Regions from separate parts of the Homo sapiens genome. Here region 2 is linked to region 1. Evidence: fine-mapped expression QTL. A gene starts in region 1. The other region holds a variant in brackets. All regions are shown on one strand. Distances are between the middles of the regions. Region 1 holds the start of LEKR1 (leucine, glutamate and lysine rich 1). Region 2 has its middle 8.4 kb from the start of LINC02029.

Region 1 (12,809 bases):
AACCTCCACAGCCACTGGCCTGGGTGCTAAGCCCCTCATTGCCCGTGGCTGGCAGGGCCGGCTGGCTGCTCCGAGTGCGGGGCCTGCCAAGCCCACGCCCACCCGGAACTCCAGCTGGCCCGCAAGCACGGCGCGCAGCCCCAGTTCCCGCTCGCCCCTCTCCCTCCACACCTCCCTGCAAGCTGAGGGAGCCAGCTCTGGCCTTGGCCAGCCCAGAAAGGGGCTCCCACAGTGCAGCAGTGGGCTGAAGGGTTCCTCAAGTGCCACTAAAGTGGGAGCCCAGGCAGAGGAGGCGCCAAGAGCGAGCAAGGGCTCTGAGGACTGCCAGCACGCTGTCGCCTCTCGCTTGGATAGAGTTCCTACATTTTTATCAGAATTGCAGGCAACATACCTCTTCTACATGCTTTTCATGGTGGGGGAGGAGGAAACAAAGGAGGGAGCATAAAACTACTTTTTGAAGTGAAGAACGACATTTCCCTGCTGGATACATATTTTATGTAAATTCACAACAGTAACAAAAGCACAGACACTGTGTCCTCATAAACCAACACAAAGTTCTGCAGACCATGTGGAAAGCCCTAGGTTAGTCGCTTTAGAGCGTCTCTATTCCAAAAACTGAGAGCATTTCCTTCCCCAGGGATCACTGACAATACGGGGTTGGGAGCGGGGAATAAAGGGTCATAAAAAGAAGTTAACAGCAGCTTAATTTGGCTATTACTGGATAATTTTTAAAAGTCGAAGTAAAAAGTGAAAATTAGCTCAATTAAAAACTAATGGGGTAACCCAAAACTTTATTTAATATGCCCAATGATGGGATTATTTTAAATTGTACTTCAATTCTAGTATGGACAGTAATGGGGTGGGAAGACAGAGGGAGGGCAAGTGAGAAACCTGAAAAGGGAGAGACCAAGACAAAACACCAACATAGGGCACAGGATTCGTGGCTTTTTTTTTTTTCTTAAACCTATTTTGTAACATCTTGTCACAACACTTCCTTTGCACTATCTTCTTTCAGGAATAACACTTTTTGCTGCTACGCTTTAAAAAATGTCATTCATCACAACTTAACTCTTATCCTTTGAAATTCTTACTGGGGTCTACTGCTTTCCAACTTTCTTTTTCTTTGTTTTCTTTTTTTAAGAGACAGGGTCGGGCTCTGTCACCTAGACTGGAGTGCAGTGGCCAGATCATAGACTGCAGCCTCAAATTCCTGGGCTCAAGTGATCCTCTCACCTAGGCCTTTCTGAGTAAAGACTACAGGTGTGTGTCACCACACCATGCTAATTTTTTTTTTTTTTATAGTGACAGAGTCTCACTATATTGCCCAGGCCAGTCTCAAACTCCTGGCTTCAAGAGATCCTCCTGCCTCAGCCTGCCAAAGCTCTGGGATTATAGGCATGAACCACCACGCCCAGCCCAACTTTCTATGATAATGAAAATGTTCAGTATCTATGGTGTATCATACATTACCTACATGACTACTGAGTACTTAAAATATGGCTAATGCAATATAGCAATGGAATTTTTAAACATACTTCATTTTAGTGAAATTAGTTACATGAGGCCACCTTACTGGACAGTGCAGGTCTAAGGGAAATTTACAGTGGAAAGGAAATTGGTCTCAAAGGCAATATGCAGACAAATAAACACAGATGAAATTAAACCAAGGAGTGAACTGCAGCCTTTGAGCTGGATTTTCTCCCATCCTTAAAGTGTTGCCTTTCCTTATCCTATAAACAAAGTACTCAATAAAGAAAACTAGCCTCAGAACAGAGTGATCTTGCATTAGGTGTGCAAATTCCTGTCCCAGATAGGTACCAGTTTTGGTGCCCTGTATCTAAACTTCCATTATCACAAAATGAGAGCAGTCCTACCCTCACTATCTCTCAGATAAATATGACGAGGATGAATAGCTCTGAAAGTTATTTGGGCTTCTCATAAGCATGTTATAGTTGACCACTTGGTTGACTGTCCTCTAGGCCTCTTAATCCTTTCTTCTTTGAGGGAGTGGAAACAGAAAATCAAGGGTAGGCATTGGGGCAAAAATATCAGTCAGGTTAAATGTACAAGATACATCTACTAGACTTTTTTTTTTTTTTTTTTTTTTGAGACTGAGTCTTGGTCTGTCGCCCAGGCTGGAGTGCAGTGGCATTATCTCGGCTCAGGGTAAGCTCTGCCTCCCAGGTTCACGCCATTCTCCTGCCTCAGCCTCCCGAGTAGCCCAAGTAGCTGGGACTACAGGCGCCCGCCACCACGCCCGGCTACTTTTTTGTATTTTTAGTAGAGACGGGGTTTCACCGTGTTAGCCAGGATGATCTCGATCTCCTGACCTTGTGATCTGCCCGCCTTGGCCTCCCAAAGTGCTGGAATTACAGGCCCGAGCCACCGCGCCCAGCCACATCTACTAGACTTTTTAGTGCCAAGGAACAAGGCACTAGTGTTCAGTACTTCCTGGTGTCATTAATTAGTAGTTATCAATAAGCAGTTTGGTGTACCGATACTGCTCTGCGTCATTTAATCACTTCTCTAAATCTATAGGTTCAATTAATTTTCTTTGTATTTACTTAATCTTATTTTATTCAATAGCAAACCAGTCTCTTTGCCTGCTACAGAGCCATCGATGTTTTCTTTGGTTCTTGGAAGAACTGTACTTCGACCTTATATAATCCTCAGAAAGGCAAGATCTGGACTACGAATGAGTCACCTGCTAATTACACCAATGGCTGCTCCTGCCTTGACCAGTCACAGAGTATCACCCTATCTCGGTATGCTGCTCTGCTTGTCGCGTAGTAGGTCTATAAATACTTGTTTTATGAATGAATGTATGAACAAAGGGAAGTTAGTCACGTGTAAGGGTGGGTAGCCTGCGATAAATAAAGTGTAGACTAGGAGGTCTCAAAATACTTTTTGAACTAAGCCCTTAATCTTCACTACTTTGGACTAGAATGGAAATGTCACCAACGCCTTCCCAATTAATTTGTCCTGGCTGTAATGACTGAAACCAGAACTTCCCTTTACACCCATGACCTCTACAGGCATCTCTTTTTCCTCTGCTCAAGAACAGTAACTGCTCACTGCTGTGTCTACCACATAGGCCCCAGAGCAAGGGGTGATAGGTAGGGCTATAGGCTCCCGACTCCCGACTCCCGGCAGTGCCTCTCTCCAACCCCCCACGAGGCTGGGACAGCTCCCTCCATCTCAGCAGTCGCTACCAAGCACCCGACCCACTCTCGCCCACCTCATCCCTCGATCCCCTTCCCTCCCTCTCACAGCATTCCGCGTAAGACTAGCCCAGCCTTCCGAGCCCCACCACCAGTTTTCCCACTTCCGCCCGGCGCGTGAGACCCTGGGCGGTGCAGGGGAGCGTTGACGACAGACGTGGGCCGTGACGTCGCCGCGCCCTGACGTCCAGCCGACTGGCGGCGCGGTCGCCCGGGAGACCGGGAAAGCCGTTTCACACCCGTCCTAGTCGAAGTCGAGGTGAGGGACGATGGCTTTCCTCAGCCTGGGATGACCCGGTCCTCCAAATGCAGTTCCGGAGTGGAGGCGTGCTCGCACCCGGGGAGAGAGCCAGAAAGCTGAGCCGCGGCGCCCCAGCGAGAGCACGAGGCCCCGGGTCTGGACTCCGCCACCACGCTCCTCTGCGGCCCCTTCCTGGTGTCTGCCAGCCCGCGGGGCCCAGGCGCGGTCCGCCTTCCTCCCAGCCCCGGGGAACGCGCGGCTCTGCTTCCTCACCCCCGCACCCTCCTCCTCCTCCTCTTCCGGCCACTGCAGGTCCAGGGGGAACGGGGTTAGAAAGGGACAGATTTGAAAGCCATTCCAGCAGTTTTGTCTGGCCTTGCGGTTGGTTTCTGTGTGGAAGAGCCTGCCGCTTCAGGAAAGTCTTAGGATGTGAACTCCCGCCTTCACCTGCCCCTGACCTGCTCGTTGTGGGTGATTCACGCCATGGGAATGGTTCTTTACGTAAGGGCTTGAAAGCTGAACGTGAGTTAATGGCCTGACGTGACACTAGTGTGAGAAACGGAATTGGAAACGAACAAGGACGTGTCTGCATTTTAAAAAATGTCTTTTCGGTGATCTTGTTAGAGAGGAGGTTCACAAACACCCACGTAGCTGCAGCCACTTATCACTGCACCTCTTGCCAAAGTGCGGTCCACATACGTGCAATGAGAAAGGATTAAAGGGACTTGTTTGATAACACACGCAAAACTATGTAAGACTAAATTTAAAAAATTACAGATTTTCCCTGTTGCCAAAAGGGAAAGACCCTTCTTTTTTCTTGAGAAACTTAGTATTTGTGAATGCTTCCTCTATTTAATATGTATGCAAATGTTTTTAAAGACCTAGGAATGCTTTTCTTGAGGACCTGGAAGCCATTTCTTTAAAATGTAAACATCAAGGAAGATAGGGCCCCAGTCTCCTTGTCACTTTGGGAGTTTAACCTAGGTGCGTTATTCCTAATTGTAAACACCTGTTTCGTTATGGAGCTGTGCATTACTTAGGAGGAAAGCCGTTAGCTAACACAGGTGGTTACCCCAATTACCAGATGAATTAAAGAGGAAATATAAAAGAATGTATAGAACACTATGTTAAGCCCTCTTACATGAGGACACGTTACCAGTTTCCTTGAGAATGTGTAATGGATTGTGTCTCCTTGGCTGTATAAAAGAGGGATTTCCTTCTCTCTTTGTAACCTCATTAGCAGATTAGCCGTGATGTGCATCAAAGTCTAGTTGAATGCCTAATAAAATTGTTGTCTTTCTGCATTGTGGAGCATTTTCTGGGTTGGCAGGACTTTTAATTTTTAGTTTCCCCCCGATAATCAGAACCTGCCAATTCCTCCCCTTCTTATGCTAAGGCCATAAAGTTGGAATAGATTCACAGACAATGAAGGCACTACACAAAAACTGTTCTACTGGTGCTTTGTTTATACTGTCATTTAGATCCGTGCTCTCAGATAACTTTATGGGTGAAATTTTAAAAGGATGTTTAGATGGTAATTTTTTGGAAAATTCTCCCAATAGAGTTGAAGTTACTATTTCATTTTACTGATGGCAAATCCACCATTAAATGACAGAAATGAGAATAATGAGCCTTCTGGGCTCTTGCCACATGATTATGACAATCTGCCAAACATCAGATTATGTTTGGGCTTATGTTGACATGGTTAATGGTACCTCCATTGCAGACCTCAGTTAACTTTACCACACATGTCATATTATGTTTTATGTGGGAAGACATAAAGCTCATTAGTTTTTGGTTTTAAACAGCAACTCACTGAAATGAGTCTTTGTGCTAACACAGGGAACAAGGAATCTTCTCTTCCACTAGTGGTTGCACCATTTACAAAGATAATGCCACTATAGGACTTTTTGACAACTACGGTTTCCCTGCTACCTTGCTGTATGGCCGGGGTTGCTCTCTCTGATAGAGTACTTTGCTTCTCCAGTCTCTTGTCAAAATCCTGCCCTGATTGAATACAAGCAACCTCAGGAAGCCTTCACTAACTCCCACCTCTCATCTGAAACATAAGATCTTTTCCTTTCTTGAACTCTTAGACTGCTCTTGTCTATGCCTTCTTCCCTGCTATGGAATTGTGCCTGTATCATCTGACTCTGCTGCCACTGCCCTCGCCCTTCTCCTGACTTCTTAGATATGTATAAACAGCCCTTACTCGTGAGGGAAGGATTTAAAAAAAAAAACAAAAAACCCAAAGTGCTCCTCCATTTATCCTCTGGTTTTATGAAAGTAGTGACTGACCTTTATATTGAATGGCTTTTATTAGAAAAAGAAAATCTGTTAAAAGTAAAATATCTGCATAAAATTATATAAATGTCCATCTTAGATAAAATTGGCACTTGGCTTCTTATTTTTTGATCACTCTTCTGTTCAGTGTTTGCATATCATATTTAATATGGTATCTCTAAATGCTCTTTTTCTGTATTTCATCATTTAATCCAGCATTCATGCCACAATTGCTTTTTTCATCTGCTAAAATACTATATTTTCATACTTTTTCTAGCAGCATTTCAGAAAAATATTTGATTTTTAAAATACACTGAAATGTGTATTTAAAATTTTAGTCATTATGTATTTGAAAAACAATTAGTAGTAAATCACAACAGAAATTATTAGACTATAAAGTTCTAACAAAAGAGAAAATATTCTTTCTAACTTAGCAGTCTCTATAGTTCTCTCCTGTTCTATTGGCCCAATAACTAACGGAGAAAACCCTAACTGTACCTTCTAACATTGAGCTGATGAAATAAGCATCTGTTGAAACAGTTATCACCATTCATCCCCAAATACTTCTAGGAGTTTATAAAGCATCTTAATTTGAATGTTCTCTACATTATTTCTGTTCTGACTGTTGCCATCAATGTTCTTAGATTTCCTTTGGCTTCAAAGCTCTCTCACCATATTTTGGGAAGTTATGGATCATCACATTCCCATGCATGCGTTGCCTGAAGAAATCCAAAAGGTATGATATATTGTGTTGCTACAGCCTAACAGTGGGAACATGTAGCAGTTACATAATTCTAAAACCTAGAGGAGTGAATTCATTAATTTTGGTCATAGGATCTGAATGAATTGGTGGAGTGGGAGAGGGAATAATTATTATCATAATGAGCAGAATTGTAGAATTCAATTCAGTATGAAGAATTTTGCTGCTATGGAAGAAGACATATATCTAATTCCAGTACAGTATTTGACCAGGTGGTTGTGGAGCCCTAGTGAAAAGCAGGCATCAGAAACGTCCATGTGTGTTTTAATGGGGCTGGATTTCTAAGCCTCTATTATGGTTTGACCAACATTAATTCTCAGTACTTACTGTGTGCCAAGCACTGTTTTAAGCCCCTTTTATGCAGATGACCCTTGAACAACATGGAACTAAATTGTGTAGGTCCACTTATATGTGGGTTTTTAAAATAAATATATTGGAAAATGTTTTGAAGATTTGGAATGGTTTGAAAAAACTCACAGGCGAACCAAGTAGCCTAGAAATATTGAAAAAATTAAGAAAAAGGCATGTCATGAATGCATAAAATGTATGTAGACACTAGTCTATTTTGTCATTTACTACCATAAAATATGCACAAATCTATTATAAAAAGGTAAAATTTATCAAAACTTATGCACACAGACACTTAAGAAACTACGTGGTGCTATTTGCAGTCAAGAGATGTAAAAAAACATAACGAAGAAGTATTAAATTGTAACTACGTAAAATTAACTGTAATATATACTATACAAATGTAATAATTTTGTAGCTACCTCCTGTTGCTTTTGCAGTGAGCTCAGGCATTGTGATTATCTCCTTAAAACACTGTGTGATAATCATGGCCATGTGAGCAGTTCTTCCCTTCAGGAAAAAGTGATCTTGAAGTTCTTGTGTATTTTTCATCATGTTTAGTGCAATTTCATAAGCTTTGGATAACAACAAAGGACACATTTAGCATGCCACTACCTGATGCTGGAAGTACTTTCAAGAAGCAGAGAAAAGTCATGACATTACAAAGAAAAAGTTGAATTGCTTGATGTGTACTGTAGAATGTGGTGTGCAGCTGTGGTTGCCCACTATTTCAAGATAAATGAATCCAGTGTAAGGACCATTAGATATGTATATATAAAGGAAATTTATGATGTTGTAGCTACAGCTATGCCAACAGGTGCAAAAACCATGTACTTTTTGCAAAATCTCTTATAATGAAAGCATAGTTTTTATGTGGGTGCAGAATTGTTATAAGAAAGGCATACCTGTAGACTCTAATATGATTCAAGAAAAAACAAAGTCATTCCACAGAGTGAGCAGAGAGTGGTGAAAAGTCTCGGAGAGAAAAAAAAATCATTATATGGCAACTTAAAAGGTGAAAGATCTAAAGCTGGATAATTTAATGCCAGCAAAGGATGGTTTGGTAATTTTTGAAAGAGGTTTGGCATAAAAAAGAAAAAGTCAAGATAACAGGGGAAACATCTTTTGCTGACCAAGATGCAGCAGACAAGTTCCCAGATGTCATTAAGAAAATCATTAAGAAGAAAGGGGGTTTTTGGTTTCTTTTTTATTGTTTTTGTATTTGTTTGTTTTGTTTTTTTGCAGTAAAGAAAGTTTAATTGATATGAGGCCACTGTGGCATGTGGCAGATGGAGTTATTACTCAAATCAATCTCCGAAAATTTGCAGGGTAGGGATTTTCAAGGATAGTTTGGCAGGCGGTGGGGCTAGGGTATGGGAGCTGCTGATTGATTGGGGATGCAGTCATAGGGGTGTAGAAAATGGTCCATGTGTGAAGACGGAGAGTCCAAGTGGGGCATCAGTCATTAGAAATACAAAAGCCTGAAAAAACATCTCAAAAGGCCAATTGTAGGTTCTACAATAGTGATGTTAATTACAGGAATAATTAGGGAAGTTGCAAATCCATTGGAATAATGGCTCCTAGTCATTTACACCTACATATTAGCAGAATGCAGACCCCTCTAATTCTCTTAACCTTTTGGCTTTTATTAGTTTTACAAAGATGGCTTAGTTTAAGGGATATTATTTAAACTATAAAGTTCTCCCAAAGTTAGATTGGCCCATACCCAGAAATTGTGTATTAGTTTGTTCTCATGCTGTTAATAAAGACATACCTGAGACTGGGTAATTTATAAAGGAAAGAGGTTTAATTGGCTCACAGTTCCACATGGCTGGGGAGGCCTCACAATCATGGCTGAAGAACAAGGGATGTCTTACATGATGGCAGGCAACACAGAACTTGTGCAGGGGCGCTCCTCTTTATAAAACCATCAGATCTTGTGAGACTTATTCACTATCATGAGAAGAGCATGATAAAGGTTCACCCTCATGATTCAATTATCTCCCACCAGGTCCCCCTCACGATGTGGGAATTGTGAGAGCTACAATTCAAGATGAGATTTGGGTGGGGGCACAGCCAAACCATATCAAATGACCAAGGGCAGTTTGGAGGTTAAAGGCAAGACTGAATTTGGTTAGGTCAGAATTTTCTCACTGTTACAATTTTTGCAAAGACAGTTTTAATCCCCCTCCTTTGGGTTTCATCATACCTTATTTTTAATCTGTGTGTTATGGAAATGGAAAAAGGCCTACAGCCACTGTAACTTCTTCCTGCTCACAGGGGCAGATTTGGAGTGGGAGTTGCCCTCAGGGTAAGAGGAGTGAAACTGTCTTGTAATTGTTGGTATGTATTCATGTGTGCCAGGTTGAGATCCCAAGGTCTGCATAAGAAAACATTGGTGCTCTTATCCACAGCTTTCACACAGCACTTAAGTGAACAGGTGGACTATAAGACAAATAATGAGCCCCAACATAAGGAGAGAAAGTCCTCACTTCAGGAATCCCTGTAGAACTGACCTGAAGCCTTAAGGGATACAGGTGAATGACCCCAAGAATCAATCAGATATGGGGTCATTAGCAGAGACTCAAACATAGTGGATAAGGCTGGAATCTAATAACAGTTGTACTATAGTTTTTTTCTGAAACAATTTTTCTCTCTCCAGTTCCCCATTTCTACCAAACACAAATCATAGTAGGACCAATTTATTTGCAAAATAAGTTCCAGTCCCATTATATTTGGCCTGGTTATTTGCATAAAATGCAGCAAGAATAGTTATTTGCCAAATAGGTTCTTTTTCTAAAAATAATTGGCTTTGCTGGAATTTATTTCATAAGGAATCTCAGATTAGACCTTTTAAAAGTCTCTAGCCCAGCCAAGGATTCATCTGTGCCTGCACATACCTGTATGAATTGGGTGAATTTCTCTCTTCTTGAGGTCCCACAATAACTTGGGATTCCTGGGTCTGTCAGAAAGTGACATTCTTTATTTACTACGGGTTAGGAGCCCTGTAAAGGACAAGGTATGAGACCAGTATTTCCAAGGGGCTGTTATCAGCTCTGTAAGTCAACCTCAGTTACTCAAAGCAGCCTGAAACCATGCCATTTCCAGTCAAAGCCTTGGTAAAATAATCAGTGTCTCCAGTTGTGTCCTGTTGCAAAAAACAAAGCAAAACAAAAAACATTCTTATTGAACTTATGCAAAAAACTATATTGCCATATGCTAAGAAGACTCATAATTAGTTTCAAAATTCTGGAGAAATCACGTAGAGAGAAAGAAATATGCTCCAAAGTTTGCAGATAGAAATATGCTTCATTCAATTGTTAAAAGCTATAAACAGCTCAAAAGGAAAGTTGTTATGTGTTTTGACCCTGAAAAACAAAAAGGATCAGAAACATTTCAAACAAATAGTCATAGAAAGATTATTTCATTATTCTCTTAGTTCAGTCCATACAGTTAATTCCTGTTCTGTTTGATATTCATGAACACTTCAGCTCTTCCTGAGAGTCCTAGAAGTTTCTCCCTCTATATTAATGGCACAATCTTTAAAGATATCAGAAATCTGCATTCAAGAGCACCTGTTAGAGTTCCATAGCTGATTATAAAATCACCTTTTGAAAAGGATCAAAGTAAAAATAACTGTGGATGACAAGAGGCTTAAACAGCTATGGTTTAAGACTCAATTAACAAGGAAATTTGGTTATTTTTGTGGCATACAATTTAATATAACAATTATTATTACTGATAACATACACTAAGTCATATTGAAATTATAGGAATCTTGCACAATTCTGGAACACATACCAATAACACTTTCATATAAATACAGCCCAAAGAAAGCCAAATACCAATTCATACTTGACAGTGCTCACTCTATGATGTCAACATGCCAAATAAGCCAGATGTCTCTTTTGGACTTCAGGGGACCTAATATTGAAAAAATTAATGAAATCAAAAGGACTGAATTTAGAACTTGAAATTTTGATTTTGGAAGGTTTGTCAAATATCAAAGGTTTAGAATACTTACTGTTATAAAATAGTATCATTGGTTATTCATTTAGCAGAAGTGATAACTCAAAAATTTCAAAAGGCAAAAACCTAAACAGCATACCCAATAAAGGTAGCATGTGGCTACCTGAATCTCTCTTTCCCCTTTTTTCCTTTTTTTTTTTTTGCAGTTTACTTAAAAGGCAAAAACATTTCATTGTGGCTCAGTATTACAAAAAAACTTTGTTCAAAAGAGGAAAACCAAATTTTACCTTTTTATTAATGTACTATTAATGTTAGGCCCAATTTTTTAATAAAACCTTATAAACAAATCTATACAGTCTTAATCAGTTTGACCATAAGGTAAGATTTTCCTAAACATCCCCCCATAACTTTTTATAATTTATTACAGGGCAGACCCCCATAACTTTTTATAATTTATTAAAGAGCAGATCAATGTTCTAAGAAAACCATTATTCTGACACATGGGTCCAGATTCTGGCCTTGTAACAGTGTGCTTTTTATTTTAATGTTTTAATTTATAGAAAAACTAAATAATCCCGTTCAACTTTTGGCTACATTGCTCACACCCACAGAGCTTCCTTTACAAGATCAATGTATTATAAATCTTTTACAACTTGCTTAAACCTTCAGTATTGTCATATCTTTTTGGGACAATCCTCAAAAATCTCCAAACTCAACGTGATTACTTTCCTTTGAACAAAAGCCATATTTCCAAGACAAAAACACATTCTACTTCCTTTATATAACTTGTATATAAACTTTCTCTAGTAGTCTCAATGTTAATATGTTAACTCTTAGTCACTTTTATTTCTGGTTAGGAACCTGGTAAGTAAGTAATTTTAACCATGTATCAGATTGCAGAGCCTAGGACAAGAACAGAGCTTTAGACAGTGTCTGACTCTTCCTAGCCTAGTCAGAGGACAGGGCTAACTCCATATGTCCCCAGATCTTACCTAAAATCTAATGACTGAAGAATAGACAAGTCAATTTTCAAAAATATCATAGAAGTAGTTTATAACCTTAAAACGTATAGCAAAGACAGAATTCAGTCTGCCTACTGTAGACCAAATGTCTAAATTTTGAAGATGTTTTTATTTTACCAATAATCTTTAAAACTATACTTAACAAAGATTTCTAAAGTCATCTACACTAAAAGGCATTAAATTTTCTATTTTTCTGACAAAATATTTTATTTTAGGGCTCATTCTTCCCTAAACCAGTTAATTAGAGTTCTTTATGTAAACATCCCACACACAACACATATAATTACATGGAAGGAAATGGATCTGGTAGTTGTAAGATTTTTTTGTTTGCCAGTTTTTAAGTTTCTATTTCCTATTTTAGACTATCAGTTTCTTGATTACCTATTCCCTGCCCTAAACAATTGTCAGCTAGGCAACTCTAAATTTGCATTTCTAAAGGGACAGCTCCTAGGTGAAACAGGATAGAGAACTTATATTTTAAAAGCACAGAGCTGAGACATTAAGCCAAAACATTGTATGATAATAGTTTCTAATATACACAGGCAGGCACCCTTACCAATGGGGGTTTTCTTAAATATGTAAATTTCTAAATTGGATTTGTGGCTTCAGGGTGGAGCCCTTCAAGGAACAGGGCCAAGAAAGCGTGCAGCTTCCAGGGCCTGACAGGCAGAGCTGTAAGATAGAACAGATCCCCAAAAATCAAGGGCTCCGTTTTTACGCCTAATCCTGGGTCCCCCAAAAGAGAAACGCTATAGGACGAGATAGTGATTTTATGGTGTATCTCATTGCAAGGACATTTTTCACTGAGGCTACTGGGCAACCCAAAGCCAATCAGCTCAATCTGTAATCAGTCCATTCCCCAATCCATACTTTCCGGGTCCCCAAGAACATGGTTTTCTTATTCGGTGTGCAAAGAACCAAGTATCACCCTGTAGTAACTCAATTGTAAGCATCTGCCATTAGCC
Region 2 (16,028 bases), 240 kb after region 1:
CTGGGCAGGCTCTGTTCTCCCCCACAGGGCTTCTCTGGGTGGGCCCCTCAGCCCCATCTGCAGAGCGGAGGCTGAAGGACCAAGAGCAGGTCATGTGGGTCTGAGGGCACCTGGGATGAACTGTCACCCTGAGAACTATCTGTTGAACGCAGCCTTCTCTTCGGTGACACTTAGTCCCAATCTAAGGGTCTCTGGCATGGAGCGTGTCAACTCAGCATGCAAGCTCTGCTGCACCGGCCATCCCTCTTCCACAGATGCTCTTGCCTGCCTTTCCCTGTACTCAATCCCACCCTCGCTCTGTGTCCATCCCTAAACCCACTGTAGCTGGAAGTCCATTTCTCTCCTTCTATGGGGCACTTACATTCTTCTGACCTTTCACCTGTGTTGCCTACACTTAGCTTTTCCTTTTAACTTTTAATCTGTTTTGGGCTCATATCTAAAGTCTATCATATGCTCCAGAAGGCCAGGGTCATTTTTTTTTCTATTCTCTGTGTGTCCTGCACAGTCCCTAACACATAATAAGTGCTCCTCTGTGTCCCTTTTTCCTCAAAAAGCTTGCTGATAATAGCTCAATTACAGGACACATACATCACCTTCACACATTACCTAGAACAGTGGCCCTTAACCTCTTAAGAGTGACTATATTCTTAAGAATATAGTGAAAGCGACAAACCCCTCCTCAAAAAGATGCACATGGACATATATGGAAAAATTGCTTCATGCAAATTTCAGGATTTTACAGCCCCTCTGCAACCTGTTCAGCCATTGACTCTAAGCTAAGAAACACTGTTTAAACCGGTTCTTTTAACTGCACTGCGAGGTGGCTGCACAGACATTGTGGCCTGTGTTTAACAGGTGGGAAAAACTGAGGGTTGGAGATGGGGAGAGACTCCTCCAGACTGCTCTATATGGTTGATTGGTGTGGCTCCTTGCCCAGTGCCCACATCTCCTTTGATATCTATTTTGCAGATTTGCCCTGAGAAGTGCAAAATCAACACAGAAATATCTCTTCCATCAGTACCTGTGCATCAGGGCAGAAACTGTAATTCTTGTCATTCTTGCCCTTGCTATGATGTTTGGCATCTGATGAAACAGTGCCTCACAAAGTCCAGCTGCAATTCTTGCCAGGGCTGAAGCGAGTTCCTCTCCTGGTGTCAGAGGACAGCTTGCTTATTGTTGTAAATTTTTTATTTTCTCATCAGAGGCTCCCAGCTGTCTCTCCAAATCTGAATACAAGAAGTCAAATGTGAGAGCAGCCAGGTGGAGTTATTAGCATTGCGGCAGACCTTCTCATCTCAGCAGCTGCATCAGTTATTCTCGTGTGTTGGCTTGAGATGCCCTGCACCAAACCATGGGCCCTTTACTCAATCGACCCCATGATTCGGAAGGCCCCGGCATCTCGGCAGGCAAATGACGTGATGAGGAAGGAGTCATGGAAGGGCATTGAGCCAGCACCTTACACAGCAGCTTCAGTTTCCACTGTCAGTGCGTGATATGTGAATGAAAATCCCTGCGTAGTCATTAATGCATAATGCCTCAGTCACTGCCTCAAAAATCAATCTTTTACTGCCTCAACGAGGAAAAAAAACAATCCCACTGCTCTCCCAGGCCCTGTAGTGTGAGTCTATCATGGCCACTTGGGCATCACTTGGGCTCAGCTCCCTGACATGACAGAGTGTAATAGCTTCATAAAAAAGCAAGAGTGGTGGTTTTTTCAAACACCATTTGCTGTGTTTGAACAAATGTGCTTCATCACAGCTCCGCCTGCCTGTGGGCTGCTCTGTAGCTGACAGATAGCCCCAGCCTAAGGAAGCTAAGGTAAAGATACATGAAGTTCACCTTCCTGCACACTCAAAATATTCAAATCTTCTCTAACCACAGCCACAGGGCTCGTGCCAAATAGGTGTGCCCCTTCCTTGAATTTGTATGTGTGAATATTTCAAGCAGTGATGGCCCTGTATACCTTCTAAGGAAAAATATGTCTCTCAAATCAGCTGTTGTTGTTACTTTTTGCCCTTGTGGTTTCCCGGCATGACCCCAGGCACCTGTTAGTAGCTGTTGTGCTCCAAGACCACAACCTCCTAAACAAAGGTATTTATATTTCAAAGGGGATGAGGCCTTATTCAGTTCCTTCCTTCCCCACCTCCTTTAAGAAAATTCCAGCATTTGGGCTGGGCGTGGTAGCTCACTCCGGTAGTCCCAGCACTTTGGGAGGCCGAGATGGGTGGATCTCTTGAGGACAGGAGTTCGAGACCAGCCTGGCCAACATGATGAAACCCCATCTCTACTAAAAACACAAAAATTAACTGGGCATGATGGTACATGCCTGTAGTCCTAGCTACTCAAGAGGCTGAGGCAGGAGAATTGCTTGAACCCAGGAGGCAGAGGTTGTAGTGAGCCAAGATCTTGCCATGCACTCCAGCCTGGGAGACAGAGTGAGACTCCATCTCAAAAAAGAAAAAAAGAAAAGAAAATTCCAGTGTTTGACTAGCGTGCACTGTGATAGCCTGTCAGGGAGAAATATTTGGCCAGAGGTGTAAGTGGCTGCTGTGCACTGTTGTGTTAAAATGACGGTGACTCTAGGAGTCAGGACACTGTGTAGGACATCACTGAGCATCATGTCTGGTACTTTCTCTCAGCCTCCTTTGGGAATCACCTGCATCAGTGGTTCTCAACCAGGGGTAGTTCAGGAGACATTGTCAATGACTGGGGATACTGCCAGTGTTTTTGATATCATAACTTGGGAGGAAGAGGAGGAGGAGGAGTGCTACTGGCATCCATTGGGGAGAGGCCAAGGATGCTGCTCAACATCCAGCAGGGCACAGGACAGCCCCCCACAACCAAGAATTATCCAGCCCAAATGTCAATGGTGCCAACGTTCAGAATCACTGGCTACATTGACTAAGTCACTGCCACTTTCGCACTACAGTCTGTTCCAATAATCTGTGGTAGAGATACACATCTGGATAGGAAAATTGTCATCCTTCTTCAATTCATTTAAATTTCATAAAAATGTATTGGATGTCTAACCTGTGTAAGGGCCATGGGAATGATGACAGAGAGCGTCTCGGCCTTCCAGAAACTTAAGTCCAGTGACAGAGACAGACAAGTGCGTACCAACCATGCAATGCCATATCAGGAGCGGGTGGCGAGTGCTGTCACAGCATACAAGGGGCTGGGAACCTGAGAAGCAGAGATGACCTCCAGCCGGCCCAGAGGGCAGGCAGGCTATGCAAAGTTTTCAGAAAAAAATAGATGTGAGCTGTGGGGGCTGCAGGGATGAGGAAACCTCACACAGGTGAAGCAGGACGGGGAGCTCTGAAGACTCAGGGAAGAATGTGAGCAAAGGCAGAGATGCTGCCTGGTGGGATGGTGGGAAAGGAAGTAAGGGGCTGACTTCTGTGGCTTGCCCTAGGCCGCCTGGTGCACTAGGGTGGAGGAGGCTGACTTTCTTCCTTTTGTTACATTTACTATTTTGGAATAGTGGGCCACATATTTACATTTCAGACTTTTATAGTCTCTTCCTTTGTTTGCTACGGTCACATTAATATTCAGTAGAGAATCTTGCCATTTTTATGCAGTATTTAGTGGAGAAGAGACTTTTCACCTAAAAGTAAATTACAAGTTTCTCCTGCAGAGAGTGGTAGCTCATGCCTGTAATCCCAACACTTTGGGAGGCTGAGGTGAGAGGACTGTTTGAGACCAGGGATTTGGGACCACTGGCAATATAGTGAGACCCCATCTCCACAAAAAATAAAACAATTAGCCTGGTGTGGTGGCGCACGCCTGTTGTCTCAGCTACTCCGGAGGCTAAGGTGGGAGAATCGCCTGAGGTGGGAGCATTGCCTGAGCCCAGGAGGTCGAGGGTGCAGTGAGCCATGATTGTGCCACTGCACTCCAGTCTGGGTGACAGAGCAAGACCCTGTTTCAAAAAAAAAGATTTCTCCTGAGGCCAGAACTAAATAAGCTGCTGTATTTGGTTCAGTCGTTAGTAATTCACATGAATCACAATTTGGTTTTAGAAAAACTCATTTTTAGTGCATATATTTGAAAATATCTCAGAATCATGGATTCCAGAGACGGAAGAGATCTTGAGAAATGCTCAGGTTCAGTTTTGTCTGGTCCAACCAGATAAGCTATTTTCGTCATCATTTCACAGATGAGACAATTAAACATCTGCACATTTTAGACAGAAAATAAGCCTACGTTAAGTGGCAGGATTTTTAAACCTGATGCATTTGCTAAGTGGTGCAGTACTCGAGATTTGGAGGTGAGAGAGTAACTATTGTCCAGACTCAATTGCCCAGAGATCAAGGAGGTAGACTTGGGGGTAGAGGGATACAGGCTTAAAGGGCAGTAGGAAGCCACCCAAGCTCAAGATTTATTGGAGGGCAGATTCTCATCTCTATACTGATTGAGTGACCCCAGCCAGTGAGATCTCCTGGAAGCAGATGTGGGGAACAGTTGTGATTGTTGTAAGTCAGAGGACAAAGTTCATCTGGAGAGAGCATCTGTCCAGGGAATCTCTGGAGACTGGAGCCACTGTAGGAAATTCGGGATTTCAACAGAGAAAAAGCTTCCCTTGGGTGTGGGCAGGCAGGGGATATCCCTGGGGATCTTGACCGTAAGTGACCACCAAGATGTGCTCCAACCCAGACTTCCCTGACTCTGGGCAGCCTGTGGACTCTCCTACCCTGGCTCAGAATCTCCGCCTTGGTTACAGTTCGAACTGAGATGACCTCTTGTTTCCCATCAAAAATGCACCCTTTTCCTCTCAACATCCCCAGTATGGGGCTCACTGCCACATCATTTGCCCCACTCCAGGGCAGGGCCCACCCGGGAAAAAGCCCTGGTTTTCTTTCTGAAGACCACCCTAGTTTATAATAGCAAATAAATATGGATTATTTTTCTCAGTACAAGTTCCTGGGTATGGGACTCAGAGAGTTGCTTTTGTCAGCTCATGAGATGGAGAAGGAAACAGTGTGGGGAAATCCCAAACCCTTGGCTACCCCATTTCCTAAAGTGAACTTTACCCCTGGCATCATTAAGTGACTTTAACAGCCTTGTACTTGCAAAGTGAACTAAAAAGGCAAATGTATAAAAATCAGGTCCTTTTGGGGGGATCACAGAAATGCTTTATGAGATCCTTTTACAGCTGCCAGTAATCATTTACTCACGTTTTGCTCAACACAGGGGAGGTCCTCTTCTGCTCAAAAGAAAGGCAACTTCCTATAAAACAGACTTGCGTAGAATCCTTGGCAGGGAGAAGAAAGCAGTGAGATCACTTCTAGGCATGGCTTCTGGGGACTGCTGATTTCCTTGACGATAATGCCAGTCAGGCCCATAGCAGTGCCTGGCAGCTGCTTCCCTCCCACACCAAAGAAGCCCAGGCCTCCTTAGGTTTACAGGCCCCTGGCCATGGGCTCTCTGTAGGAAGTTGGTTGTGTATTTGTTCTGGAAGTGAGCCCTTGGGGCCAATGCACCAGGCTATCACTGGTAATGTCTTCTTTGGAGCAAATTCAGGTAAACGACTCTGCTACATGTGGCCTTGTTAAAACAGACAGTTCTGCTCAGCACATTTCCCTGGACATTCTAACACTCGTCGTTACACAGGAGTGAGTAACCAAAGGCAAAAGGCATCCATGTTAGCACTTAAGGTCTGTTTCCACTTTGGGTTCCAGTCCCATGGCCTGTGTCCTTTTCCTCAGAAACTGTGGTCTCACGGGGTACCCTCTTCCTCAAGCTGATCCTGGCAAACAGATGTGGTGCCAACTCTGACCATTGCTCCTTGGAGTTGGAGGTACAGATTACTTGTCAGAATCTTGTGATGTCCTGAGTGGTCTGGGATGCCCCTGCTCAGAACTACCATTTCCTGAATGTTGACTCTTGCAAGGTGTTTACATATGTCATCTGACTTAGTCCTCGCAAGGATCCTGTGCTCATTTCACAAGAAAAAGTCTCCCTCTACCCAGGCAGTGTTCCCCCACATCTGGGCCAAGGAGCCTTACCCGAGGGTAAAACAAAGCTGAGGGGCAAGCAACCACACACCCCATGTTTGGTCTCAAGCACTGGCTGTTTCCTTACAAGTTTAATGTTTTTTAGGAAGATGCTACTTGAGGCCAGGAACAGTAGCTCATGCCTGTAATTCCAGCACTTTGGGAGGCCAAGGCAGGCAAATCAGTTGAGGCCAAGAGTTAGAGACCAGCCTGGCCAACATGGCAAAACCTCATCTCTACTAAAAATACAAAAATTAGCCGGGCGTGGTGGTGCACACCTGTAATCCCAGCTACCTGGGCAGCTGAAGCATAAGAATCAGTTGAACCTGGGAGGTGGAGGTTGCGGCGAGCTGAGATCACACCACTGCACTTCAGCCTGGGTGAGAGAGAGAGAGAGAGAGAGAGAAGAGAAGAGAGAAGAGAGAGGAGAGAGAGAGAGAAGAGAGAAGAGAGAGTAGAGAGAGAGAGAGAGATGACAGAGGAAAGAGAAAGAAGAGAGAAGAGACAGGACAGGAGAGAGAGAAGAGAGAGGAGAGAGAGAGAGGAGAGAGAGAGGAGTGAGAGAGACAGGAGTGAGAGAGAGAGGAGAGAGAGAGAAGAGAGAGGAGACAGAGAGAGAGAGGAGTGAGAGAGAGAGGAGAGAGAGAAAGAAAGAAAGAAAAGAAAAGAAAGAAAGGAAAAAAAGAGAGAAGAAGGGAGGGAGGAAGGGAAAGAAAGGAAGAAGGAAGAAAAAGAAAGAAAGAAAGAAAGAAAAGGAGGAGGAGGAAGGAAGGAAGGAGAGAAAGAAAGGAAGAAAGAGAGAGAGAGAAAGAAAAAGAAGGAAAGAAGGAAGGAAGGAAAGAAGGAAGGAAGGAAGGAAAGAAGGAAGGAAGGAGCTACTTGAAACTCTAGACCTCCTGGTGGGAAAGTGACACCAGGAGGTACCTTGGCTGTGGCTGGCCCAGGGTAGCAAACAGCCCAGGAGTGGGCACAGTGGGCTGTAG[A/C]AAACCCCACCAGTTGTGCTATGAATTCTGCTTTTATTTTTCTGAAAGAAACTGAAAATCCTGGGTTTTTGTTTTGGTTTGGGGTTTTTTGTTTTTGTTTTTGAGACAGGGTCTCACTCTCTTACCCAGGCTGGAGTGCAGTGGTGCAATCATGGCTCACTGCAGCCTTGAACTCCTGGGCTCAAACGATCCTCCCACCTCAGCCTCCCAAGTGGCTGGGACTACAGGTGTGCACCACACCTGGCTCAGGGTTTGTTTAATGGGAAAATCTTACAGTTTTAAATGTTGGCAATTTATTTAAAAAACAAACAAAACAAAGCTTGCTTAACACTCTGCAGATGAAACAACATACTTGTGGACTGGTTTGCAATTTCTAGGTTAGGCTTTCCCTCTAGACATAAAAATTCAAACACGGATAGAATAGGATCAAATCTTTCATTCTCTTGTTTTTTCATGAAATATATTTTTTATTACAATGTATTAAAATTCTCAAATTTTAGAACAAAGTTCTAAAAAATATAAATGCTTAAGTGTTTTTGTCACTAAGTTTATTTTTCGTATGAATGATACCGCTTTCTGTTCATTGACAGTTCACATGGTGATTTGAGATCTACATGTTATTTATTGCTCACAAGGCAGCTGTGAGGTGGGTGCTGTGACTTCTGCAGGCATTCATAGAGAAACTGAGGCTAAGAGAAGTTCACTCATGCTCACATGACCACATGTTTGAAAGAGCCTAAAACCCAGCCAGGCGTCCAGACTCTGATAGACCTTTTCATTCAGTAAACCGTGGTTTCTAGTTTCTCCCACTAATACTACTGTATCGATGATTATTCTTTGCTCCAGGCCACATGATTTTTTTTCTGAGATGCCTCTGGTGATTAAATAAAAGAGAAGTCATGGGCCGGGCACGGTGGCTCATGTCTGTAATCCCAGCACTTTGGGAGGCCGAGGCAGGCGGATCACGAGGTCAGGAGATCGAGACCATCCTTGCTAACATGGTGAAACCCTGTCTCTACTAAAAATACAAAAAAAAAAAAAATTAGCCGGGCATGGTGGTGGGTGCCTGTAGTCCCAGCTACTCGGGAGGCTGAGGCAGGAGAATGGCGTGAACCCGGCAGGCCGAGCTTGCAATGAACCAAGATCGCACCACTGCACTCCAGCCTAGGCGACAGAGCGATACTCTGTCTCAAAACAAAACAAAAACAAAAAATAAAAGAGAAGTCATAAAATGTCCTTTAAGCTAGGACTTAATTTTTTTTCTTTTTGTTTTGTTTTGTTTTGTTTTTGTTTTTTGAGGGAGGCCAATAAGGGAAATGTGGATGGTTTTTAACCTGGAGTTCAGGGACCTAAGAGTGAGTCGAAGGGAGCCTGGGAGAGGGGCTGAACCCCTGGTAATTATTTGAAACGTTTTGTAGAGACGTGTATTGGGGTATGTTTTGGAGAAGGAGATCTGTAGCTCTTTCCAGAGTGTGTCTGACTTCCTCAGGGTAGGCAGGATCCATGCAGGCTGGACTCCAGCCCTTGATCTTTATCGACACTGGAACATAACTTCAGCAACATTCCTGAATCTGCAAATTGATTTCTCCTCCGTGGCTTTTTTCTGTTAAAAAGATGTAATGCATGCATGCCACCTAGCATCTGGAATTAGTCACCACCAGTGGCTTTGCTTGAATCCCTTGTTTATTATGCCTCATTACCATGCAACCAGATTGTGTTCCTGCAGGACAGTCCTCTGCAGTTTTCACAACCTCCATCAACCCTCTGACTCTGATTCGTTCCTTCTTAAAAGATGCAAAACCTTTTTCCTATAAGAAACATTGCAAAACGCCTTTTAATAAAATATAAGTTTTCATGAGCCAATAATCAACTCATGCTAACAATTATGTGTCAAGAATATGTAAAAAATGAGAATGACATTGGGGCATTTATTTTGTTACAAAGGCTTTTGGGGTAGTGCAAGAACCTTTCAGGAGCAGGTGGTTTTCACTTAATGGTAGAAACTGCATCTGGGACCTAGAGATTGTCCTTTATAATTCTTTATAGGACACAATATGTGGGGAATTTTTATAATGGGGACATGAGGATCACCAAAGACTACATCAAGGGTAACCACAGAGCAGGTGTGGCATCAGGTGGCCTGGACTTGATATCCAGCCTTGCAGCGGCTCACGGTGTAACTGAGGACAAGGCATTTTACTTTTCCAGGCTCTGAGCTTTTCATCTCTTAGACAAATGCTCAGAAGGGAAAGGCAAGGTAAGAATAGCATCCATTGAGAACCCACCGGGTTGCCAGGTTCCATTCTTGGTGTTACTACATGCACCCTCCTGCTTATGCTCACAATAGGACATTTGGATTCATGCCCAAGGACACACAACTTGTAGGTGGCATGGCCAGAATCCAAAGCTGGCTCTCTGGACTCCAAAATTAAGCTCTTTCCATGACCCAGTTCAGTGTTCCTCAAGCTCTGTCAATAAAGCACCCTCAGCAAGAGAAGAGAATGGCCACATGTATTAGTTTGCCAGAACTGTCGTCACAAAGTACCACAAACTGAGTACCTTAAAACAAGAGAAATTTGTTGTCTCACAGTTCTGGGGGCCAAAAGTCTAAAATTTGGGGCTGTGAGTGAAGGATCTGTTCCAGGCCTCTTACCTACCTGGCGGTTTTCTGGCAATCTTTTGCATTCCTTGTTGGGCAGAAGCATCACCCTGATCTCTGCCTCCATCTTCCCATAGTGTTCTCCCTGTGCACATGGCTGTGTCCAAATTTCCCCTTTTCATAAGGGCACCAGTCATATTGGACTAGAGCCAACACTACTCCAGTGTAACCTCTTCTAAACTTAACTAATTTCAACTGCAATCACCCTATACCCAAATAAGTTCACATTCTGAAGTACTGAGGGATAGGATTAGCACTTCAACATATTCTGGGAGGACACAATTCGACTCATAATTCTACCCACTTCAGGAATCTGAGGGGATCACTTATGGCACCTGTTATAAGCATTGAATATTTTCGATGCATTGAACATTATCTTTAAAATTCATGCAAATTAAGCACTCAACTCCATTATTACACCACCACTTAATATAAAAACAACATTTCCCAAAAGTTTACGAGTAGAATTACTGATCCAGAAAGCTGCTCCATGCTGATCCTTGGGGTTCAAAACCGCATTGTCAAATCCCTGACCTGCATCTTTTCATGTCCTCTGAAGATGCGGAGACACCTTTAAGGAGGCACATTTAACTTAAATGAGTGCGAAGAACGTGGACCTATACAGGGCTGAACAAAAAGCAATGCAAATTAAATGCAAACAGAAAATCTGAACATCCCTGACCAAAATCAGTGACAAAACACACCAGTATGGAAACAACACTTGCAGAGAGCTCTGTTGGAACTGCACGGCTTCATTTCATTCTCCTCTCTTTCGTTTTTAGAGGAAATCAGCATTAGACAAGCACAGTTTGTCCTGCTTCCCCAACAACAATGGCTTTTGAAGAACATGCTTTTGAAGTGCAGGATCGTGGTGTTTGGGGACAAAGATGATGGTTGTGGTAGTAACAGACCTAACACACTGATCAGATTCATATTTTTCTATTACAGTAACTGTGTGTCAAGTAATAGAACTTACCAGCAAAACTAACCATGGCCATACACTGTTCTTTTATTTCCTAAGAAATAACATTTTCAAAAGTGACAAAGGACTCTCTGACAAAGGCCCAGCAATGGATGTGAGAATGACTCAAGGGGAGAAAAGGGCCTCTCCGTGTGGTTAGCTTAATGCCCCACTTGGTTCGTTGACACAAAAACAGGTCCAGCCAATGCATTTCCACATCCTGAGGATCTGCTGCCAGCCCAGCAGAGATGTGCTCTGGCCAGGACCCAGAAGATGGGCAGGGCTCAAAAGACAGAACCAGGCACCCTGACAGCGTAGAAAAAGAGATGGCTTTCTGCTTTCCACTTTCCTTGGTTGAAAACACGGAGACCACAATGTTCCTTTCTTTTTCCTGCCACTCTATTGGGAGAAATACAAACTTTCCAAAGGCATTCACCATCCACTTAGCAGAAACATCTGTCAGCTTTAGCTACAATCAAAGAGAAAACATCTCCAGAGAAGGAATATCCCACAGGGTAAAGCAAGGGACAAACCTAGAGAACACTCGTGACCCATTGCTCTAGCTCAGGGGCAGCAAAGAGGCTGCAGCTCTGTTCAGAAGTAAGCCCTGCTGGTCTCTACGTTCTGGGAGCTTTACTAAACAAACCCAGAATGCAGGAGGTCATTCACCGAGTTAGCAAATGCAGGTGACCAGACCCTTGAAATTAAAAAAAAAGAAAAGAAAAAGCACATGGGTCAGGCGTAGTGGCTCACGCCTGTAATTCCAGCACTTTGGGAGGCTGAGATGGGCAGATCACTTGAGGTTAGGAGTTCGAGACCAGCTTGGCCAACACAGTGAACCCCCATCTCTACTGAAAATACAAAAAAAAAAAAAAAGAAAAAAAGAAAAAAATAGCCAGGCATGGTGGTGTGTGCCTGTAATCCCAGCTACTCGGGAGGCTGAGGCAGGAGAATCTCTTGAATCCAGGAGGCAGAGGTTGCAGTGAGCCGAGATCGCACCACTGTACTCCAGCCTGGGTGACAGAGCGAGACTCCGTCCAAAATAATAAATAAATAAATAGGGCATGTGATGACAGAGTGTGATGACAAAGAAAGGTGGTCTACAAGGGAGGAAGGGCTGGGGGATCTGCAGAACCAGTGCCTGTGCCGGGGAGGCACAGCCCCTTTCAGCCAGAGAGCAGCTCCCCCTCAGGGCAGAAGTGAGTGTGCCCATCTCTAGGGAGATGAGCTCCGTACAGAAGCAGAGCATTTTCATCAGGTTTTCCCACAGCCTGGCGAGAATAGCTCCTGAAATCAACCAACGCCCTCTGTCCTGACTCCACCTCTGCCACAGCTACTGCAGTTCTTTGGTTATCCTGATAACCGAAGGCCACTCTGGAAAGGTGTCCACTGGGAACGACTGGCACTCTGCCTTGGGACACCAACATTCACTGAAGCAGACACCGCAAATTATTTCTAAAGATCGTGCACATCTTTAAGCTCTCACTCTTCTCTTAAATCCCAGCTTTTTCTCTGTCCCACCCTCTCCTGGCCACAAAGGTCATCCCCTTGGCAGCTGAGACAGAAAGGGCCAGACATCTGGGCCAGGGCTGGGGCCCACTGGCCTGGGGCCCTACATGCACTCTGGGCTACATTTCATGCTGCTTGCCCACGTTCCAACTCCAGGTGAGGGCTCTGGGGATACGCATTTTAAAGCAATACTGTAATAGTCTGGTGTGCAACCCAGTGTCTGGTGAGTCCAGTTTTGGTGAATTATTGCTCCCAGTGGCTTACTAATTCACAGGGAAAAGAAAAAAAAATCTAGTTCCCAGATCAGCAAAGTGGAAAAGCAGAGTCCTAAACACAGTATCCTCATGAGGGCAGTGTCCGGGCCCTAGGACAGCAAAGCAGCCTGCTGGTGCCTCTCCCAGCAAGTCATCATGTGCCCGTCAGAGCTTCCAGAAAGCTATTCCTAAAACAAGATGGGATCAAGCCACAGAAAGCAGGTCCAACCTAGTGGTAATGGTGAAAAAAAATAGCCCCTAAGGGGAGAAAAAGGGCAAAGTGGTGAAATGCTGTATAATTTAAATGCATTTGCAAGACTCTCCTCTCCCAACTGTCAGAGCAGAACACCATGCTGCTTTCATTTTTAAAAAAACAAAACAAAAACCTCCAAAGAGAAGAAGAACACCTAGTTATGACTATCATTTCCTTTCCTCCATGGCTTCCCTCTTCCACCTTTATCCCTTAAAGCAGTAGCTCTCAACCAGGGGCTTTGCTCCCCCAGCACACCCTAGCGACTTCTGGCAATGTCTAAAAATGGTGGGGCATGCTACTGGCATCTATGGGTAGAGACCAGAAATGCTGCAAAATGTCCAGCAACGCTCACGACAGCCCCCACGACAGAATTATCCAACCCAAGATGTCAACATGCTGCTGTTGAGAAACCTGGCCTTTAGAAGCAGTCTTCTAATCTTATTTTCTAAGAATAAGAAAATATTATTCTTAGTTTATCCTGCAGCTAAACAAAATGCATAGGAAAAGATTCATCATGAGGAAGGGGGCAATGGTGACTAAGAACTTCACAAAGTCCTGAACCATTCAACCTTCATTCTGAGAGGATGGACGATCAGATTTAGTGATTCACTTCTCTGATTGTAAGTATCATCTTCTGAAGTCCATTAAGTGTTTAGTCATGCCCTGTGTTTTTGTCAAGTGGTAGGCAAAGGGAGTTAAGTGGAACCTCAGTCCCCTAAGAGTTTATCATCTAAGATGGGTAACAATGACTAGGCAGAGATATAAAGGTGAGATGGACAAATAACCAAACTACAGAGTAAGGCCAAACCAATTGCAGAAGCTGGGAGCTGAGCATAGTGTGAGGAATGCGGAGGGCAAGTTATCCAAGTGAGTAGGTGGCATTAAAGAGAAGAACTAGGGACGGCATCACTCTGCACCTCCATTTATCCATTTGCTTTCACTAAAATATGTACCACATGCTTCTGGGCATGCAGAAGTACATTTCACACTCCAAGCACTTGCAATCAAGCCAGTGTGATAAGATTCATACACAAATAAGCAAAACACAAAAATTCCATTCTGAGAGGTATAGCAAGTACATGTCACAGTGCTTAGAGAAAGAACTGATGCCTGCATGTGGTGGAACTGGCATTTGGCTGGGCCTTGGAGTGTGGGGGCTACTGGGGAGCAGAGCCTGCCTGAGAATCTAGGGCAGGGTGGCAGCAGGGGTGTTCGCTGTCCTACAGACAAGAATCTCCAAAAATGGAGTTCTGGCTTAAGGTGTTTGTCCTGGCTTATCTTTTGGCCACTCAACAAAACTTTCTGTGCCTCATTTTCTCTCTTCTTCCCATTTCCAAGCAACAAAACCATGTCCATCTACTCTTATTAAAAATCTCCAAGAGTGGTGTCTCATGCCTGTAATCGTAGCACTTTGGGAGGCCGAGGCTGGAAGATTGCTTGAGGCTAAGAGTTCAAGACCAGCCTGGACAACATAAGGAAACCCTTTTTCCGAACAAATAAAAATAAAAATTATTTTTTTTGTAGGTATGGCAGCACGCGCCCATAGTCCCAGTTGCTCAGGAGCCCAGGAGTTCAAGGCTGCAGTGAACCATGATTGTGCCACTGCACTCCAGCCTGGGCGACAGAGCAAGACTCCAGCTCAAAAAAAAAAAAAAAAAAAAAAAAAAAGAACCACAACATACCAAGTGAAGCCATATGGAGCTTCATGCAAGAAGATCAACATGCACCAGGTTCAAGGGAGATGCTAGCAGTTACAGCTCACAGGCTACCTCAGGTTTCTCTCTTTCATGTGCTTCTGGCCTTACCCAGTAACAGCAACTCTGAACACTATCCAAGCAAAACGTCATATGCTTTGAAGATGCACTAGTATTTCAACAGGCTGAACGTTTTCCAGAACAAAATCTTTACCAAAGCTGCTAACAAGCAGTCAGATAGACTGCCCTGTGAGTGTTCTCCTCCAACAATGAACCAGCAGAAAGGTCAGCAGCCGGAAACAGAAAGAGGAGAAGGGTCCTAAATAAACACAGTTTAATCAACCGTGAAGAAACCTAAAAGTTGCCCGAAAGTGCTTTGTTAATGGGAGAAGCAAGGCCCCTGCCCTCAGAGAAAGGCAAGGAAGGTTGAAGGTCACTTCAGCTGACCAGAGGATGCCATGGCGGCAGCGACATTCCCCGGTGGGAATCTCAATGGAAGACGCAAACGCAGAAGAGAAGGAAGGGAGAGGAGAAGCCAAAGGTGGACCTTTTCCAAGGACCTGGCAAGCAAATGTTCCCTAGAAAGAAGATGAAAATTTAGGTCAATAAGAAGGAAAGACACTGTTTTTAGAACCATTATGACGACTTCAGAGTTGGTTCTCCTTCAGGCTTTTGTCCATCAAGTCTGTCATGTCTGATTCCAGACTCCTCAGGATATTTGAAAAAAACTAATTTATTTGAATTACATCAATGTCCTTTACTTGCATCTAAAAAATCAAAGTCAAGCTATGCTGATATGTGAGAGAGAATTGAGATGAATGAGGGCTGACTCCCAGTCTCTGCCCCTGTAATTACTTTCTTTGTAAGCCTGAATACCCAATCAGATGGACGCCTTCTGAACACATTTTTTCATATTTATGAAATACCTTTGAACAATGAAATCTGGAAACTCTGGCAACATCTGTGTCCAAATATATCCAAGTGTGTTTATGTTTTTAATTGAAGATCAAACAATTTTAGATGAACTCATCTATGGTATCATAGAAACTGCATATTTTTAGGTAATTCTTGAGAGCATTTTGCAAACTATTAAAGTAACTTGATATCATGCTATATCTTTAAAAGATATTTCTCAGCTGTGAATACTATTGGAATGAAATCGGGACTTTTCAAAAAAGTCTGCAGCATGAAAAGGTTTGCATATGAATTCTGATTCCATTAGAAAACCATTTCTTTTAGGACTGTTTTATCATTCTCTATTGGTTCATGTAATATGATTGGTTTGTTCTTATTCTAATTAAAGATGCAATTTATTAAAGAGTCTTTAACTTCACTAAGGCAAAGTTTAAAAAGCTTCTAATCAGATATTCTTGGTAGGCAGGAGAACTATAACCTTCAAACTCTCTGATGTTGTATGAAGCAGCTCTCATCTCTACACAAAGATTTTCACTTCTGTGATCTGGCCTGGTAAAACATTTATTCCTTTATACTCAGTCCTAGTTTGTTTTAGATCTGGGCCTCTGGGCCCATTAATTTGTATAGGATGATAATTTGTATAGGAAGACAGGTGTGCTGTTTTTCTTCAATCCTTGAGGATATTAGGAAAAACTTTAACCAATTAAGGGATCCCATCACCTGACGTTTCTTTGGGGAAAATGACTTTTGAAGGCATGTGGGGATTGTCAAGGAAATAATTTTCCCTTTAAATTACATGTTTGT

The links.
Region 2: its variant is fine-mapped to the expression of LEKR1 in hippocampus (GTEx, PIP above 0.99).

The regions. Positions count from the first base shown.
Region 1 is chr3:156,822,897-156,835,705 of GRCh38, forward strand. It overlaps LEKR1 (leucine, glutamate and lysine rich 1), which reads left to right and starts at 3,457. Exons shown (of 13, transcript NM_001004316.3): 1 at 3,457-3,480; 2 at 6,390-6,481. The coding sequence starts at 6,434. RefSeq lists an enhancer at 3,930-3,989 and a silencer at 4,304-4,598.
Region 2 is chr3:157,065,417-157,081,444 of GRCh38, forward strand. No RefSeq gene overlaps it. Among named protein-coding and RNA genes, the nearest start is that of LINC02029, 8.4 kb to the right of the region's middle. The variant A/C (reference allele first, on the strand shown) is at 6,980.